Linked DNA regions of Homo sapiens: all the other regions are linked to region 1. The links come from fine-mapping of genetic effects on gene expression. A gene starts in region 1. Each other region holds a variant in brackets. All regions are shown on one strand. Distances are between the middles of the regions.

Region 1 (5,793 bases):
TCCCCATCTATGATTCCAAGTTCATTTATAGCTGTTGGACAATTAATTCACTTGGCATCTCCTTTCCCCTATCATTAAAAAGTGTTTACTACAGTATCCCATCATGTTCCTCTGGTGTAGTTTCAGACTATTTTATTACATTACTGATAGAAAGTTCCTAATAAGCATTTAAGATATAACATTTAGGACATCCCTGAAGAAGAAATGTGACAAGTCATGAATGCCACCCATATGGAGTACTTTCAGAAAACACAGGGAGAGTTCTTTCAGGTGAACGTGAACCTTAGTAAGACATGCAGATGAGTGAAAGCACATGGACCAGTCATGAGTGGCTATTCAGTTTTGGAAAGTCCCTTCACTTCTCTGGGATTCAGCTTCTGCCTCTCTAAAATAAAGGGGATAGAGAAGATAACCTCTAAAATTCTTTGACATCCTAACAATTATGATTCTATGCCAAGAAAAAGTTAAACATCACTAAAATATGTCTTTTCATTGATCTATATAGTTCAAGATAACTGAAAGATACTCAAAATTTCTAGTAAGAGAATACATATATATGCATATCTCCATAATTTTTATAATCCTTTTACATTGCACTGGTTCAGAATTTGCTTTCAATAACTTTTACTTTAAAAAACTCATGAAAGAAGAATAGGAATCAGAGAACCCAACTTAATTCCACTCATAAACTTTAAGCCTTTATCTGCCTTAAGAACAGCAATTTAGAGAAATGCTACCTCAATAGCAGTGGTCAATGAACTACTATTTTATTATTTCAAGCACAATTTAAAAATATTTCAGAGAGTTTTGCAGGATTAAAGGTAACCTGGAATTTTTCAGATTCAAAAGTAAGAGTTACTGTATGTATTGTGAATGCAAAACATGACTGAATTTTAGTAGGTTATCAAAACTTTTACGAAAACAATATCCCCACCATTGAACTTGGTAAATGAGTCATAGTTCAATCAAATTCAGGGATGTGAAGAAATCTTTCCCTCTAATAAAGGTTGGCAATCTATTAAATCTGGGTAGTTTTGCTAAAGCACATATGTCCCTTTAATATGATATCAAGAATTACATTGTTTCTGGCTTCTCAGATTCTATTCCATATCCTTGCAGATTACTTATTAGTCAAGTCAAGAGAAAAATTCTGTTCATGATGGAGATAGGCAAATGACAGGAACCTAGGGCTTCACATCTGATGGCATCCCCTCCTTTTTGTTTGGCTATTTCTCTCCCACCTGATTGTGATTTTTTTTTTCTCTTAAATGAGAGTTTTCTTGTGCCCGTTAAGACCCTCAATACTGGCTGGGAATGGTGGCTCATGCCCGTAATGCCAGCATTTTGGGAGGCCAAGGTCAGTGGATCTCTTTAGGCCAGGAGTTGGAGACCAGCCTGGGCAACATAGTGAGACCCTGTCTCCACTAAATTTTAAAAAATAAATAAAACAATACAGCAAAAAAAGGTTTTTTTTTTTTTTGCATTTGGGTTATGTTTTTTTTCTTTTTTTAATTATACTTTAAGTTTTAGGGTACATGTGCACAACGTGCAGGTTAGTTACATATGTATACATGTGCCATGTTGGTGTGCTGCACCCATTAACTCGTCATTTAACATCAGGTATATCTCCTAATGCTGTCCCTCCCCACTCCCAAGCAAAAAATTTTTAAAAGACCCTCAGTACCAAGGAATTTAACTCTGTGCTCTGAATGGATCAGCATATCAGCCTCCTGAGCCTGAAACTTCCGCCTTATAGCTCAAGTATCTCACAGTGGGATCCACTTAAGGCTTAGGATTCCTTAGGTTCTGAAATCACAACTATACACTGTTAATATCAGGACACCACAGGATTAGCATATACAATGTGCATTGATCTGTACCCTGAATCTCAGGCTTAGGAAAGGGTTTCAGGATTTCCAAAATGAGGAAACCCCAAATATAAAAGTATGTTATTTGCTATAAATTATAGCAATGCCTTGCCTGTTGCCATTGTGTTCAAACTTCCTATCCATTATCAGGCTGAGATAAGAGCAGTGAAGTAAACTATTTCATCAGTAACACCAGTAAAAACTGGTGTCTTTCATTTTACTTTAAAAGATGAGAGTACAGACAGATAATCTCTGTCAGACTTTATTAAACTTTCTGAAAGGAATGATACGGTAAGTTGCCCAGAAAGAGCAATACTGCAGGTGTTAAATATTTTTCCACACCTTGGCCTCCAATACATAAATAGGAGATACATAACAAATAACACTAGCAATGATCATTATAAATTAGAACATCTGAAATCAGGCTAAGAAGTAAAAAGTACTGCATAAAGAAACTCTCGTTTATTTATAACTTTTTATTATAAGAAAATAAGACACTGTTCGTATAAATAAAAAGGACTTGGACACAATATTCTCTTAAGAGGGGTGGGGTTAGTTTCTGCAAGTTTTCTTCTTGAAATTAGTTGATATAAGAGGAATTACTCCAGGCATTTTGAAGTGATGTTTTTTCTAGAACTTCGTAATGTTCATCGGTGCAGCCAGTGAGAGAAGGCTGCTCTTTGTGACTGCAGAGCCATCACTTCCCAACATCATTACAAAAACAAACAGCTCGCCCTCGACTCCCCACATGACAATGGACCCGCATCTGTCAACAGACTTGCATTATGTGCCGTGTGAGAACATGACTGTGACATTTGCTCTCGTGACATGGCAAATTTCGGCGGCTTGTCTGTAAAGAGATTAGCATTCGTTACGCTGCAGCACCTTTCATCAAACTAATGACATTTCAATCAGCACATTTTCTCCAGTTTCGGTACTTTGCTATCTGAGCACAAGTCTCTAATTACGCTCAAGCAACAAGTTTCACATCAATCTCACAATTTATGCACTCACCATACACCATTGCTCCTCCAGTTTCATGCAAGAAGCGGAATCGATGATTTTTAAATAACCAGATTGTCAAAATGGTAAGGATGAGCAAAAAATTGAAGACAAGCAGCTCCACCGCTCCCTGATGTTGAAACTGATACTCATCCTTTTCTGACATAACCCTTGACTGTCTCTCCATTCCCCAGTCTTCTTGGGATTCCTTAGATAAAAACCTGGATAAAGGCTATTTTATCAAGATTTGCCTAAGACAGTCTGACTGCCTGAGAATTTCAGAAGAAACACTGCCACTTTAGTTGCTACTTCACAAGCATTCTGCCCTGGCTTAGTATTCAGATGGCTTCTAGTTACAACTTCCTGTTTCTCTCTTAAAGCAGCCCTGTCTCTTTTCAAACTCGAGAGTGTGTGGTTTCATCACTGACTCTTAATGTCTTTAAGTGATTCATCTCATGAAAATATCTTTCATACTGGACAAATCTGCAAGCAATGATGCTAAGATCTTGAATCACGGTCTTATTATTCCAAATAAGTCTTCTTAAGCTGCATAAATATGAACTGTAGATTAATAATAAAAAAGGTAGCCTTACACTAGCAACGTTTTCTAAGTTCAAAAAGCCAATTCCTGACTCAACTTCACCTAAATGCAAGATCTTTCCTCTCTAACCAAGACCTGCCAAAGTGATGGGGATTGATAGCACAGTTATCAATCAGCCTCTGTGCTCTAAATGGATCAGCATATTAGCCTCCTGAAAAGATATTACACTGCTTAGCCTGAAACTTCCGCCTCATAGCTCAAGTATCTCACAATGGGATTCACTTAAGGCATAGGGTTTCTTATAGGGTTTCTTATGCTCTCAAATCATGACTGTACATTGGTTAAGCAAACCTAAAGTGATTTCACAGGATTTTTTTTTTTTTTTTTTAGTTGAGAAGCAAGAAAGGATTTAGTATATGACTCTATTTGGCTTTATATAATTGATAGTTGCAGAGCAGCCTTTAAACTCTAAATCAATTGTTTTTCTTTTAACAAGAGAAAACAATGAAAGCAAAAGACAAATAAAATTCCATCCCCATCTCTACAACTGTACTGTTTGGATACGTTGAGACAAAAAAGAAAAAAAACAAAACACATTACTTCGAAAGAGAAACTCACGCAGCCATCCTCAGCAACGCCACATGCATGGATTTCTCTTTGTAGGGTTCCTGGTCTCGGCATCCAGGACCCACAGAAATCTGCAATAGATCACAACCTCCTCTGTCCTATGGCAAAACAATGTTGCTCACTGAGAAATGGTTCTGCCACCAGAAATGAAAGCTCTGTATTCACAGGATTCTGATCATAAGAGTGATGATTCTTCAGATCATCTTCCATGTGGCAGGTTGCTCCTGTCTGATTTCATATTTTTCTACTTTAAAATAGTTCAAGATAATACCATGGGTTCTGCAGCTTTTTTTTCCTTTTCTTTCTTTTTTCTTAGCAAATATTATGACCTGCTTGCTTTTAACACTTGATCCTATAACACATTTGGGTATATCCTGGGGTTAGCTGATTTTTTTTTTCATTTTACCATATCATTGTAATTTGGGAGTATTAATCACTTATGATCCCCATTTTGACACAATTAATGCTCAATTTATACAATGTGATTTCTTATTGAGTAGGCTGAGCCCAAATGCGTCCTGAAACAATTTTTGTCACTAAAAGCTAAAGGTCAAGCATGTAATATTATTGGGAGCTAACTACCTCCTCAACAAACAGTTTCACCATGAGAGCAAGTCTATCAACCCCTTAATACAAAGCTCTGCTGTTTCAGCATCTTTGCTTTGTGCAACTTTGGAAGCTTATTTCCTCTCTGAGTTTAACTTAGCAGAGGGTATTTATGTGTGCTGCAGATGTTCTTCTGACACGCTACCCTTTTTGGCAGGAATATCTGTGATGACTAATATTCATACTGTTTTGAAACCTATCAGCTAATGCTTGCAAGCATTTCATGGAGCTTTGCTAGCAGGTTCTACCTTTATGATTTTGCAACTCCACAGGTTCAGTCGAGTTGTCAGATATACAAGATAACACAAATTCAGAAACTTCCTGTCCTTTTGTTTTTTGTCATTATTGAATTACTTTGGTTTTCTTTTATCACAATTATTCCATCTGAGTAGAATAAACATTCTCTGGTTGATCCGTGACATCCAGTTTCACTCTTTTAACCAATGAAGCAACTTGACAAAAGATTAATGGCCCATAGAATGTTTTGATTGGCTTACACGTCTTTTTAAAAAGTTTTAGGTTTGATGTCAACACATTCAAATCAGTATATTTAACATTTAAAAAATCATATGGCTTTTTGCAAGAAAAACTTGTAAGATCTGGCACACTGGGCCCTTCTTACATGGCCACAATCTGTTGGGGCTGAGTGGTTGCCTGCTGCATTTGCAACCAGCTTGCCACAAGTCCATTCATCCCTCTTCTTTCATTCATGGTCCCCGTGTGGCCCCTGCAGATGTTTGAATGTATGACCCCTGCTTTATTCCAGGAATGGAGTACATTCACTATTCCATTGTTCATTCCTGATGCTGCTTCACATTGGGGGGAAAAGCTTGAAGAAAAGGGGCTCAGGAAACATCTCCAATTCCTCCATCCAGAAAAGGAATTCAATTCTTCCTATTTTGTGTTTTCTTTTTAGAATATCATTTTTTATTTTGCTGTACCAACGTAAGTGAGAAAATAAAATGGAAACATGTAACAATAGAGAGTCTACTATGGACCAGAAAATATGCCAAGGAATTTAACTTAGTCTAATTTAATGTGCAGAAAATACTCACCCTTCTCCTGGTGAGTAATTTAAGGCTCAGGGAGATTTGGCAACATAGCCAAGGTCACACAGCCAGTAGGAGTTAAATTGCATGTGGGGTGTAT
Region 2 (6,587 bases), 23 kb before region 1:
CTCACTACACACTACCTGAGGGTCCACCACTTTTCTGGGAACCCATCATATGACAGTTAGAAAGAAAGATGAAGACCACTCGAATTTGCAGGACATTCTTGCTCCACACACCCCAACCTGGGGCAGAACTCGATAAATCAGAGCCCACTTAGTCCTGTGATCAGAAATGGATGTGAAGGGAGCAGCTGGGAGACTCCATAACTCCAGGCAAGCTTAAAAGGCAACAAGAGACAACCAGCTGAATGTGCAGCTTCGTTAGGTCCCCTCCCCTCCTGTGCCCAGCTGTCTGTGGAGCCTACCTCAGGCTGTATCTGTTACTAAACAGGAGCTTCCTAATGACCTCAGGAGAGAACAGGGAAATGCAGCTGGGTGGAACTTTAAATAACTACTCGCTGGAGACCAGCAATGATAAATGTGCACTCTTGCCACAGTTTAATATTTTAGAAGGAACAAAGCAATGGGGAAAAGAATTGAAAGATCCATTGTAAATATTATTTACTCAGACTTAAAGTACAATGGGAAATCTCTTTTTTCCCTTCCACTCTCTCTCTGTTTTCTGTTCTTTGCTCAGGCTCCTTTTCTCTCCCTCTCTCCCTGCCTTGAATCTCTCTCTGCCTCCTTCCATCCCTACGCAATTATTTGGAGAGCAGACTTTTTAGCAGTTCAGTCCTCTGAGTAGTAAACAACCATCACAGAGCACACATAATTCACCCTGAGGAGAAATCTGAGGTTAGATGCTTGGTTACAAAATAGCCAGCAATTAAGACAGGACAGAGTAGCAGTAAAAAGGAGCTACTGACAAGCAGAGAATGATAGATACCTGGTTACATCATCCATTCATTTATCAAGATCCACAGAGAATTCACCATTTGCCAGGAATCATGGAATGAATGTGACCACTAAACAGACCTAGTCTCTGCCCTCCTGGAGCCCACAGTCTAGTGAGACTGTAGACAAGTGACATTGAGAAGACAGACATGAATCAAAACATTATAGAAGTAAATATTAACTTACAACTCAGCTAAAATGCAGTGGGGGAATGTCAGGTGGAGCTATGAGACTGCAGACCTATGAGACAAAAGACCTGGATACTGTAGTAGAGTAGCATGGGGACATTCGGGGTGAAGATGAGTGTTCTCCCAGAGGTAATCAGCCCCTAAGAACATCCTCATGTCAGGCCAACAGCCCATGCACATACTGGTGCCGCAAGACTCAGAATACAGAATTTAAGATTTCAGAAAAGACACAAAGGATAAATGCTTGAGGGGATGGCTTTCCCATTCTCCATTATGTGATTATTTCACATTGCATGCCTGTATCAAAACATTTTATGTAACCCATAAATATATATACCTACTATGTACCCACAAAAATAAAAAATAAAAAAATTAAAAAATAAATTAAAAATTAAACATTAAAAAAGATTTCAGAAAAGAGTGGAATTTTTAAAGGTAGATGTTATCAAAAATATTTAATAGTTACAATAAAAATAAAATTTTAATAAAATATAAGATATTATATTGTTCTCTAAGATGAGGTGTCCATATCTTAGAGAATGGAAAGGATGATTTTGGTGTGCAAAGGACATACTGGAACTTCTGTTTATATTTCATTTTATCTCATCCTTTTAAAAAATTCTAGTTTGATATCTGCTTTATAATGTATAGAGTATATTGATACAGTAGTCCTTACATCCAACTTGTAAATAAAAAGGTATATGGATATATTCTCAAACGCATTTCACTGGTGGGTGCATAATCAAAAGTTTGGAAGTTAGTATTTGCGTGGTGCATTCTGAAGGCAAGCTTTCAAAAGTGGCCATGGTACCTCATGGCACTTCCTGCCCCTAGGAGCAGAGTGTCCCTGTGTTTCTAGATTTCCAATCCCTATTCCAAGATGATCTCTCTCTTCTTCTCTGCCCTTCTCTACTTTAAAAAATATTTTTTTCTAAAACTTTTTATATATACAAAATGATCTTAGAATATTCATGAATAAAATGGCAAAGAGCTGGCAGGAAAAAAAAACCAAAAAACCAAAAACAAAAAACTGCCTTCCAGAAAGCAGCAGGCACTTACTGTTACTTAGTTTTGTCCTCTGCTTTGAAATTCCCTTCTTCCAGATTTCTGCATGGCATAGTCCCCACTTCATTAGGACTCAGCTCCGATTCACCTCAGTGAGGCCTTCTCTGCAGGACATATCTAAAGACCCTTCACTCCGAACCTTCTAATTTTGCTAACTTCTCTTCATAGCACTTGCCTCCACTTGGCTCTGGATTACAAATGCTTGTGCTGAACTTCCTTTGTCTATCCCCCTCCAGGAAGTTAAACCCCATGAGCACAAGGACTTCGTTTTGTTCACTACCATACTTGCAGCACCTAAAACCAATGCCTGGCAAGTGGCAAGTGCTCAATAAATAAATATTTTTTGAATGACTGAAGGAATGAAGAAAATCTGTGTTGTTCAATGATGAAATCAAAACCAAATGGAATATTTAGAGTCTTTAAATACATTTCTGAGGTCATCTCACAGGCCAACTTTTTGCCAAAAATGTTGAATGAAAGTGGAAGAAAACAGCTAAAGCAAACAAATTTTTAGTTTCTTTAGTAACAGCAGATCTCTTAAATAAGGTTTAGGATGAAAGGAGCTGCATCCGCCCAAACAGCCTCATCCCATTTACTGCCAAACTTGACATTCTCTGGAACCATCTCACGTGGTAGGAGCCAAGAATTGTCATGATAGAGAAACACAAATCATGGAGCCCTATTCTCTGTTGAAAGGAAGAATAATTGATAGTATCCTACAAATGCTTCTCCACACCCCCAATGCTGATTTATCATCATGAAGCTTGCTTTCTCTCAGTGTGCCTAGAAAAGTTTCTTAAAAAATTTCTTTTCAGTCCTTTGTTTATCCTCCCCAAGAGTGTCCTAGTGTTAACTGTACATATTTATCTCATGGCCCAATGACTCTCTCTGCTCAAGCGATTCCTGTTACAGGAAGAGGTTTGCCCCTGGCCTTATTGAAGCTCAAGTAAAGGAAAAGACTAGAAATGCAAATGTAGTTTACAAATAAATATATGAGAATTAAAACTCTGAATGATGAAAAATCAAAATCACCATTAGGAAAAGTTGGATGGTGAGAAAAAAAAAAGGACTTTGATTTATTTATTTAAAGCTACAAAAAATTAATTATTTAATTCTTCAAAAACAAAATTACTTTTAAAAGTCTTATGGTTAGTTGTTTCTATAAGGGCTTCCTTAAAGTAGCTCTAAAATATGTAGTATTATCAACACAATTGAAACGAGCTCTGATGACCTATTTGCAGCTTGGCAATTCTCTTTATTGAAAGAATAGAAAGGACAGATTGCTCAGCAGTGTAACTCACTTCAAAGTAACTTCCTTTACCAAGCGATAGTGTCTACTTGTCACACAGGAAGTGAAGACTTGGCAAAATTTTC[G/C]CTGGGTAGTTTCCTTTGACTTTTTGCATTACAGTCAACTTATCTATGAGTGATAGGAAGTGTAAATTTAACTGTACTGACAACTTTTTGATAATCTACTGTATCTGCAAGACTTTTCCAGCCAAATGGCCCACTGACCCTTCCAACTGAGTATTATAAACACCTAACATGCTAAATCAATGATGAATAAATTAATGATGAAATAGATTGATTCATTCATTCATCAGTTTAAAACCACATTTGTGACCAGGCACTGTGGCTCACACCTATAATCCCAGCATTTTGGGAGGCTGAGGCAGGCAGATCACTGGAGGTCAGGAGTTTGAGACCAGCCTGGACAACATGGTGAAACTCCATCTCTACTAAGAATACGAAAAGTAGCTGGGCGTGGTGGCACATACCTGTAGTCCCAGCTACTTGGGAGGCTAGGGCATGAGAATTGCTTGAACCTAGGAGGCAGAGGTTGCAGTGAGCTGGAATCGTACCACTGTACTGCAGCCTGGGCGACAGAGCAAGACTCTGTCTTGAAAAAAAAAAAAAACCACCATATTTGTGATTTGTGATTTTCTCCTACAAATCAACTCCTTCTTCTAACTTTTAACTTCCACATTTTTGCCTCACCACCCTTCTGTGAACCCACATGACCAGGGTAGCAGAGGAAGCTGTTTTTCCTCTTCTTCTGACTAGTTGGGCCAAGCCCTTCACAGCCTTCCTTCCTCGTTTTTCTTGCATCTACCTCTTGGTTACCATCCAAGTCTAGGCTTCATCTGTCTCTTTGCTTTCACTCTCTACCCTGTACACAGCAGGCACACTATCCTTTTGCTTTTGTCAACATTACACTGTTCCTCTGACTACAAATAGAGAGGGCATTACTCAGCCTGGCATTCAGGGGCTTCCAAATCAAGGTCTGCCTTCATTTTCAGCTCTAGGTTTCACTGGTCTTCCACACTTCAACAAATTGGAAATGCTTTTTCTTTCCTGGAATATTGTCTACCCCTTTTCCCACATCCATATCATGCTTTTCCTTCTGCATGGAATTCCTCCCCTCTGTCCCCCCAACACCACACATACCCCTATCATCAGAGTCAATCAACTGCCCTTCTTAGAAATCTTTCCTATTACCCTTAATAAGAGACCATACTGTCCTGTTCTGGACGCCTGTGGTTCTTGTCCCACTTTTTTGATACGTGCCTTTAGTGTTACTCATTCATTTATTCATATGCTATGTTTTTCTCTGATTTACTACTAAACTCCTTGGGACCACATCTTGTTTCAGAATTGAAATTGATAGGACTCAGTTCATTTGTGTTGAAAGAATAAATGAATGAAAGTATGAAACAGAAAGTTATTTTATCATCTTCTCTTCAAAACAGGTTTTGAACTTCCTATTGACATAAAATGCAGAAATATTTGGTAGACATTTTGGTATTCCTAAATATTACATAACAAACTTATGTTTGCAAAGCTATCATGTAATAGGATGTAGGCCCTAAAGGGTTACAACCAGTTGCAGGTATCTTGTATACACAGAACAATTTGACAAATGGTGGTGGAAACATTGGCTGAACAGATACAGAGCAACATGGTCTTGTTTTATCCTCTTAGAAGGTTGTTTTGAGTTCATCGTCTGCTCATAACATATAGAAGAATACTGTTTTCACCAATCTTTAAGTGAAAATATTTTTTTTCTTTTCTACACTTTTATCTGTGTTGAGCATGAACAAAACAAGTTTGGCATATGGTGTTTCCTGAAATTTTTATATGTTTAAACATGGCATAAAATCACAGTACATTGCTGTTTATATAAATGCCAACAGCTCTCATATTTTCCAGTTTTATACCTTCTTATTGGAAGGAACTCACAGAGCCATCAAACCAGTTCTGTCTCTAAGCACGTCAATGCCTAACCATCCCAGAAATACACGTGCTCTTATAAAATCTTCTAAGAGGCCATTACATAGCACAAGAATTCATTCCAGCCTCTCCAAATCCTGAAGTCAGAAATTTCATCCAAGACACTAAACTATATTTTTCTAAGAGTAAAACCCATTTTCAAATCATGTAACTTTTAGAAACAAAGGCAAAATACTCCCTTTAAAATATATCACAAAGGAAAAGGACCCAGTGGGGCCACACTAATGGCTTCTGTGACTCTGCTGAGCCGGACTTCTTCCTCAACTCTGACCTCCCTGCACTCTTTCTAGCACTGGTCATCTCCTTCTGCCTGTCTAACTGTGAAACGCTCTAGGTCTTAGCCCCAGGTGCCCTGCCCTTCTCTGTCCATGTGGCCTCTCAGAGAGCCTGTCCAGTAGTGTGGGGTATAATAATTTACTCAGGTCTCAGAATTAAGTGCTATAGTCCAAGTTCTATCTCTTCTCTAACCAGTAGTGGGACCCTGAACTCACCATGTATTTTCTCTGGACATTAATGTATTATCCATATATGCACAGCTAAGATTAAAGAATGTCTCAGGTGTCTACAAACATTAAGCATCCAGGACACTACAATTCTACCAACTCCAAGAATGATAATTTCTAAATACTGTATGTTTCTCTAGCCATATGTGCTCTGCCAAGATCTCAGACTCATCAATTATTTATTCATTCATTCATTGTTTAGCAGCTATTAGGCATGGGGCACCAGGATAGGCTTTGGGGATACATTGGTCAGTAAAAAAGGTATGGTCCCTGCCTTTGTGAAGTTTACAGTCTAATGGACAATAAGCAATGTAAGAATGCTAATAAACAAAAAGCAAGCAAATACATGTATAATTTCAGATGATGTCAAGTACTATGAAATAAGAGAGAAAGAAACAAGCACATACCTACCCCAACACACACACACACACACAGAGAGAGAGAGAGAGAAGAGAAGGGAGGGAGGATACAGTGTGAGAAAATGGGTAAGCCCTCTCTGAAAAGATGGTACTTCAAGCCAAAACTCTAGTAATGTGAAGGAGGCTGATATTCAAAGGGTAGACGTGAGGCCATTTTAGGTGAAAGGAATGACAGGTACAGAGGTCCTGAAGAAAAAAGTTCTTGTTGTGTTGAGTGAACAAAATAAGGGGCTGGTAGATCTGCAGCAGTGGATGTGAAGTAAAGAAGAACAAACGCAGCATCTCTCTCCTCACCA
Region 3 (6,587 bases), 210 kb before region 1:
TACAGATATAATTTTTAAATAAATACTATTATACACTATACATTTTCAGAAACTTCGTTTTTTAACTTAAAATGTCTTAGAGGTTTTTTCAGGCCATAAATTTTTTTAAAGCTCCAAAGTGTGCCATTGTTTGTATGTAGCACAGTATATTTAATCTTTCTTATAGACATTTTGACTATTTACATTTTTTTGTTATTACAATGATACAGTGTATAAATATCTTTGTTGATGTAAGCAAATATTTTGTAAGGTAGATTGCTAGAAGTACCTTCACTGGGCACATTTAAATTTTGGCTGATACTGGCAAAAAGATTCTTGAAAACATTGAACATATCTATAGCTATACACACACAAGATCTATAAAATACTATCTATTTCTTTATTGTTTCTAGGATTTGAATTTTATTTAGGAAGAGTATTAATATTCTAAAATTCTAAAATATGCTTCCAATGTTTTTGTAGTTTTTCTTAACATTGAGCTCTGTAATCCTTCTAGTTTCATTTTAGGAATGACGTGAATTAGGCATTTAACTTTTCTCCCAAAGGAATAGCCCATTGCCCCACACTATCTATTAAAACACCCAAACTGTTGCCTTTATATTGGAGGAACAATCTGGCTTGGGTTTCACATTCTTTCCCTCAGAAGTGAACATGTGCTGCCTTTCCATCTTCTGAAATTGAATGTCACTGTGGTCAAGTCGAAAGCCAACCTGATTATTTCTGCTCTTGTAAGTGACTTGAATTTTCTGCCTATGTGCTCCCATAATCCTTTCTTTAAGCTTGAAATTCAGTAACTTTTTCAGATTATCTTATGCTGTCGATGATTCCAAATGAAACTTTCCTGAAATCTAGTGGGTCCTTTATGTCTATCTATTTATTACATTGTTTCGGGAGAATATTGTTTTACACCATGTTCTTATGATATTTTTCCAAGTGTTTTCTTCTTCAAAACCATCCAACTATCTGTCATTCATTTCTGTCATATTCTCTGGAGTCATTATATCTTTGTTCTTTTCTACTTTGTTTTGTGTTATTTCCCCAAATGCGTCTTCTATGTATTTAACAATATTTTCAGTGAAGTTCATTGTATTTTTGTGGCTTCTAGTGTCTTTTGTCTCTTTAGTGATTTTATTGATCTCTCCAACTTTTTCCCTGAGTATTGCCAGCACACTTTTAATCTCCCTTAATTATTTTATATCTCTTCTATAAAATTTTGAACTTTGCTCTGAACATTTTTGTTTGCTTGATACTTAGGAGCATTTGCTTGATGTTTATTGCTTCACACACACACACATATAGAGACAGAGAGATCCATATTTTCTGCAAGTCCTTCAGAATAATGGAGAACTCTTTGTCTACAATTTTTCTGAAATACTTTGATGTATTTGTTTGGGGATTGTGGGCTCTTCTTTGGCTTAAATTCCCTCCATTATTTATAAAAAATTACTTTGCAGTTTTAATGAATATATATTACTCCCTCCTTTTTGATTATAACTCATCTTTTTAAAAGCCTGACTATTATTTAAATAATTAAATAATAGTACAGGGAAAGGGGTGAAATAGGGTAGAGTAAGCTGAGGCTCACTGCTGTTTTAATTTGGGTTTTGTCCTGGTTATCTAGTGTTGCAGAGCAAACCACCCCACAACTGAGTGACTTAAAATAACAATCAGTTATTTTGTTCACATTTCTGCAAATTGGGCAGGGTGCAGTAGGTCCAGCTCATTTCTGCTCCACGTGGTATCAGCTGGGGCAGCTTGAATGGGGTTGCAGGATCCACTTCAAAGATGGATCGCCCACATGTCTGGCAAGTCTTGCTGGCTGTCGCTCCCTCTCCAGGTGGAACTCTCCACAGACTGATTTGGCTTCCTCACAGCAAGGTGGCTGGGTTCCAAGAGTAAGTTCTCTAAGCGAGAGGAGGTGGAAGCTGCTAGTTACTAAAGGCCTGGACCTGGAAACTGGGACAGCATCCCTTCTGTATTCTTTACACTGAAGGTGGGGCATAGACCCATTTCTGGATAGGAGTGTCAATGAATTTGGGGGCTATGTTTTAAAACTGCCACTGGCTGTCTCAAGCATCTGTCACCAAATCTGTTATTTCTTTGCTATTGGGAATACATCTTTTTGTAGTTTATGGCATTCAAATTGAGGTGGCACAGAGAAAAACCCCCGAAGTTGCGGATGAATTATGTTTTAATTTGAAAACTTCTCCTTTTCTTCCATACAAATAGCCTCCAGCAGAGTCCTTGGCTAGGAAACCAGAATGTGTCAGCATGATTTCTATTTGGCTGCTGTTTTGAGGGGTCAGACTATTTTCCCCATTTTCCCCTGACCCATCTACCTGATCTTAACTGTGCTCTAAACAGCAGAATATTGGATGCTCCTTTCAGTAGTATGATGTGCTATCAGGTCCGAGAGAAACAGACTTGGCTCAGCATCTTACCATCTCTTGTTTAAGATTTCACATTATTCAGCGGCAATACTTCATACTTAAATATTTCATAGTTTATAGTTTGGAGTTGTGAATACTTTCCTGTTTCAACGGCTATTTTTTTTCTATTTTTCAGTGTTTTTCTTAGTTTTAGTTTGTTTTCAGGGAGTCTAGTAGAATAAAACTATTTTATCCTGCTGTCTTAAGCAGAAGCTCCACATGATCTGTAGAATAGGCTTAAAAATATATGTTGTG[G/A]TTTTAGAAGTGAGTTTACATTGAAGATATAGTTTACTTGTGGGAGAATTGGCTTTTGAATCTTGTCATCCTGTCTCATAGCAGCTCTCCTTATTGTTTGTGGTGTCTTTTTGGTCCTTTACTAAAGTTAAAATTTTTCTTCTCAGATATCTTGTACATTTATTATTTAATGTTATTCTAATTATGTTAGATTTTTAAGATGCTATTATGAATAAAACTGTTTTCCATTACATGTTATCATTAATTGTTGCTGAAGTCCTGGAAAGCTACTGACTTTTGTCTGTCAATCATCTGTCTAGCCAGATTTCCGATTTCTCTAATATTTTGCCATTTAAGTCTCTTGTATTTTCTAAGTAGACAATCATATCCGCTCATCTATTAAGTATTTTATTTTGATTTTCCCAGTTTTAAATTTTTTAATATTTTTATAGATTTAGGGGGTACAGGGGCAGATTTATTACATGTGTATATTGCATAGCTGTGAAGCCTGGGCTTTTAGTGTATCCATCACCCAAATGGTGAACATTGTACCTAATAGGTAATTTTTCAGCCTCATTACCTTCCACCCTTCCACCTTTTGGAGTCTCTAATGTTTATTACTCCACTCTTTATGTCCACGTGTACCCATTATTTAGCTCCCATTTATAAGTGAGAATAAACAGAAGTGCAAAGCACTGGGGAATGAGATAATCTCCTGAGACTTCTACTTCCCCATCTCTGCAGGAGACAGTGAGCCTGACAACATGCAGAGTACACCACTACTAAAACCTACAAACAAGCAGCATTTGAGCAAGCCACTACACTAAGGCTATCTATAACCAAGGAATTCATACGGAGCCTTAGCCCCCACCCCAAGATCACAAATTAGCAAAGCCAAATGACCCTACCCAACATATGCAACAGTCACACTTTCAAGGGGAAAAATAAAGTCCCATTAAAATGAATGTAAATTCAAAAATAAGAAGTGACAGTTTCTCCAGATGAGAAGGAACCAACCAATTCTGTCACCATGAAAAAACAGTGTTGTAACACCCCTCAAGGATCACACTAGCTCTCTAGTGATGGATCTTATCCAAAATGAAAATTCTAAAATGACAGATAAAGAATTCAAAATATGGATCATAAGGGAGTTCAACGAGATCCAAGGGGAAGTTGAAAACCAATACAAAGAAATCTGAAAAACAATTCAAGATATGAATGAAAAATTTACTACAGAGATAGATATTTAAAGAAAGCACAAAACTCTGGAAATGAAAAATTTACAGATGGAATTACAAAATACAGTTGAAAGCTTTAACAATAGATTAGACAAAGCAGAAAAATTTCAAAGCTTGACTACATATCTTTTAAATTAACCCATTCAGACAAAAATAAAGCAAAAAGAATGTAAAAACTGAACAAAGGCTTTGATAAATATGGATTTTCCTATTTTGAATTTCTATGATTTATATTTCAAATTTCAGCTTATCCCTGTTTTGTAGATATAATAGCCATTTATATACACCTTAGTAAGTATATATGCTTTGGGCTTTAGTTTTCTATAATGTTGTTTCCCCTTAAAGTTGATCTTATTTGCTTTTATAATCTATAGCTTTAGCGTAACTGACATCTAAAATCTCAACAGGTTTTTATTTTTTAAAGGTGAGAATAGATATGTATACTAAAGTTGCCATCTTGATGAAATGAGAAAACCAACTTAAAGAGGTTGACTGACTTGCTCATTGGTATAAAACTAGTAAATAATAAAGTCAGAATCCAGACTGCCAACCCAACCTTTACTTCTCCATGGAGAAGTAAAACACATACTTTCCACATCTGAGGTTATGTTCTAAGATTAAAGTTTTTCCATGAAAACTTGTATTAGAATTACTAATGAAAAGAAAGCCAACTGCATACATGCATATATTTTTCTACTTTTCCTAACTTTTTCTTATAAGTTATGCTAATGAAAAGGCTAAAAGTGAACAGCTATAAGAACAATAAACAATATCTGAAAATTTAAATAGTCAACTGTTACATAAGTAAGAATTAACTCTGCCAAGAAGTTTTTCTGAGTTCCATAAAAAGCAAAGTAGGCGGGTGAGAATGGGAATGGGGGGTAAAAATGAAAAAGGATAAACCTCAAAACACATTAGGGTAAGAATTTAATTTAATGGCCCAAAATATAGCATGCTCACCTTAATGTCATTAGATCAAATTTGACCATTTAACTGCCATTCTGAAAATAAGCCATTTGGCACAGACTTTAGAATTTGACTTTCATATATCCAATTTGAATTAATTGCCTTTAGAAAAAACAGATGAAACTACATCATGATTCTGATATTGCAGGATAATGCCAGGAAGAGGGGAGTCTAAATTCTATGTGAGTTATTTCATCTAATAATTTAGTGGGCATTCACTCTAACTTTTGAAATGAGAAACTCTTGCTGTGAATCCATGAAGAACTTCTAAATGGTGAAAGAATTTCCTCCTTTTTCCTTCAATACTGCCTGCCATTCTGGCAACGGGAAAAGTGATATATTTGAGGACCCCTGGGGCAGGAAAATTGATAAGAGCTCCTGACTTCTTTCCCATAAACAACCAATATTTTAAAGCTATTAACAAGGGAGCTAGGCATTCAAAGACAGTTCATTTATCTTCCAATAGCTGGCAAGGGTGTCAGGCCCTGCAGTCAGGCACAGAAAAATGGGCCCTGAATTCACCCTCTATTGCTGAACAGCTGCTCTTTCCCAAGGTTTTAATCAGATTCCCTAAGCATCCCATGCCCCAGTAAGGCAGAGCCCACATAAAACTGGCAATAAGCCTGTCTTGTAAATTCATTACAAAGCTCAAGTAATATGAGCAGATTATATTCTCCAGGCCAAGAGAGAGCTTTTAATTTAGACCAAAATTATTATTGCATATTGATTTGGCCCCTTGTTCTCTGGAAAGTTTTTTCTTAGAAAAAATCCAGACTTGGTCACCTGAAATAAAAGACATTTTCTTGGTTGTTCAGAATGAGAAGTCAGGTTTAAGTGTATTAGAAAGAAAATATGTCTTTGGATGAAAAATTCTTAATTCAGAGCCCCAAAACTATTTATAGAGTTTTGTCTTTTTGTTTAGCTGCACCTACCCTCCACCCCCTGAAGTGAGAGCCATAGCTTCCTTTAACTCTTGACTTCTGACCCAAAAGCTTAGTATGCAGTATTTTAGATTATGTTATTAGAAGCGAGTGTGGCAACCTTTGGAAATCTTTCCTTGCATGAGGCAGAAGTCAAGATTGGTTCTTCTCATAGACAGCCTGATGCCTAGCTATCAACTACTATCTGTTAGTAGGCACTAGCATGGGCATTCATGCCTCTGGTTACAACAGAGGGAATGAGAGGGAATCACTATCAACCCCTGACCAGATATTAAAGGACATTAGAGACAAATGACACTGATGCATCATGACAAAAGTATACTGTATCAATTAGAAAAAGGATTGGGTAGTCATAAAAGAATCACAGAATCAAACACTGCTAGTCTTCTTCCCAGCTTTGTGTAGTACTGAGAGGGCCAAATTTTATCATCTTACTAAAAGTGAGCAGTTTTTAATTATCCTGAATGTTGGTATGGATTTAGGAGGTCATTACCAAGCACTTCAAAATTTCAAAGACCCATTGGATAAACAACAGCTTTTGTGTGAAGGATGAGGATAAACATTTGACAACCTTCATCTGTCCCTGTGTTTACCATACAACCCTCTGATATTATTTGCTTTCATATGCAGGCCTGCCTATGGGAAAGGCTGCTTTTATCATATGGTGTTTGGGGTGCTTGAAATCCCGATGACAGTAATTTTCTGTGGTGAATTAATAAAGTGGATGCTGATTATAATTCATCTTCTTAAGTACCTTGACAATAGAAAGAAAATGAAAT

What was found. PIP is the estimated chance that this variant, and not a neighbour inherited with it, causes the effect.
Region 2: its variant is fine-mapped to the expression of SLC9A9 in whole blood (TOPMed, PIP above 0.99).
Region 3: its variant is fine-mapped to the expression of SLC9A9 in whole blood (INTERVAL, PIP 0.96).

Annotation. Positions count from the first base shown.
Region 1 is chr3:143,845,266-143,851,058 of GRCh38, forward strand. SLC9A9 (solute carrier family 9 member A9) reads right to left here and starts at 3,203. Exons shown (of 16, transcript NM_173653.4): 1 at 2,883-3,203. The coding sequence starts at 3,057.
Region 2 is chr3:143,822,278-143,828,864 of GRCh38, forward strand. All of the region lies in intron 2 of SLC9A9 (solute carrier family 9 member A9), which reads right to left. Among named protein-coding and RNA genes, the nearest start is that of SLC9A9, 23 kb to the right of the region's middle. The variant G/C (reference allele first, on the strand shown) is at 3,456.
Region 3 is chr3:143,633,375-143,639,961 of GRCh38, forward strand. The region is part of intron 6 of SLC9A9 (solute carrier family 9 member A9); the gene reads right to left. LOC102724120 (a long non-coding RNA gene) reads left to right here and starts at 627. Exons shown (of 3, transcript XR_001740940.2): 1 at 627-728. The variant G/A (reference allele first, on the strand shown) is at 2,685.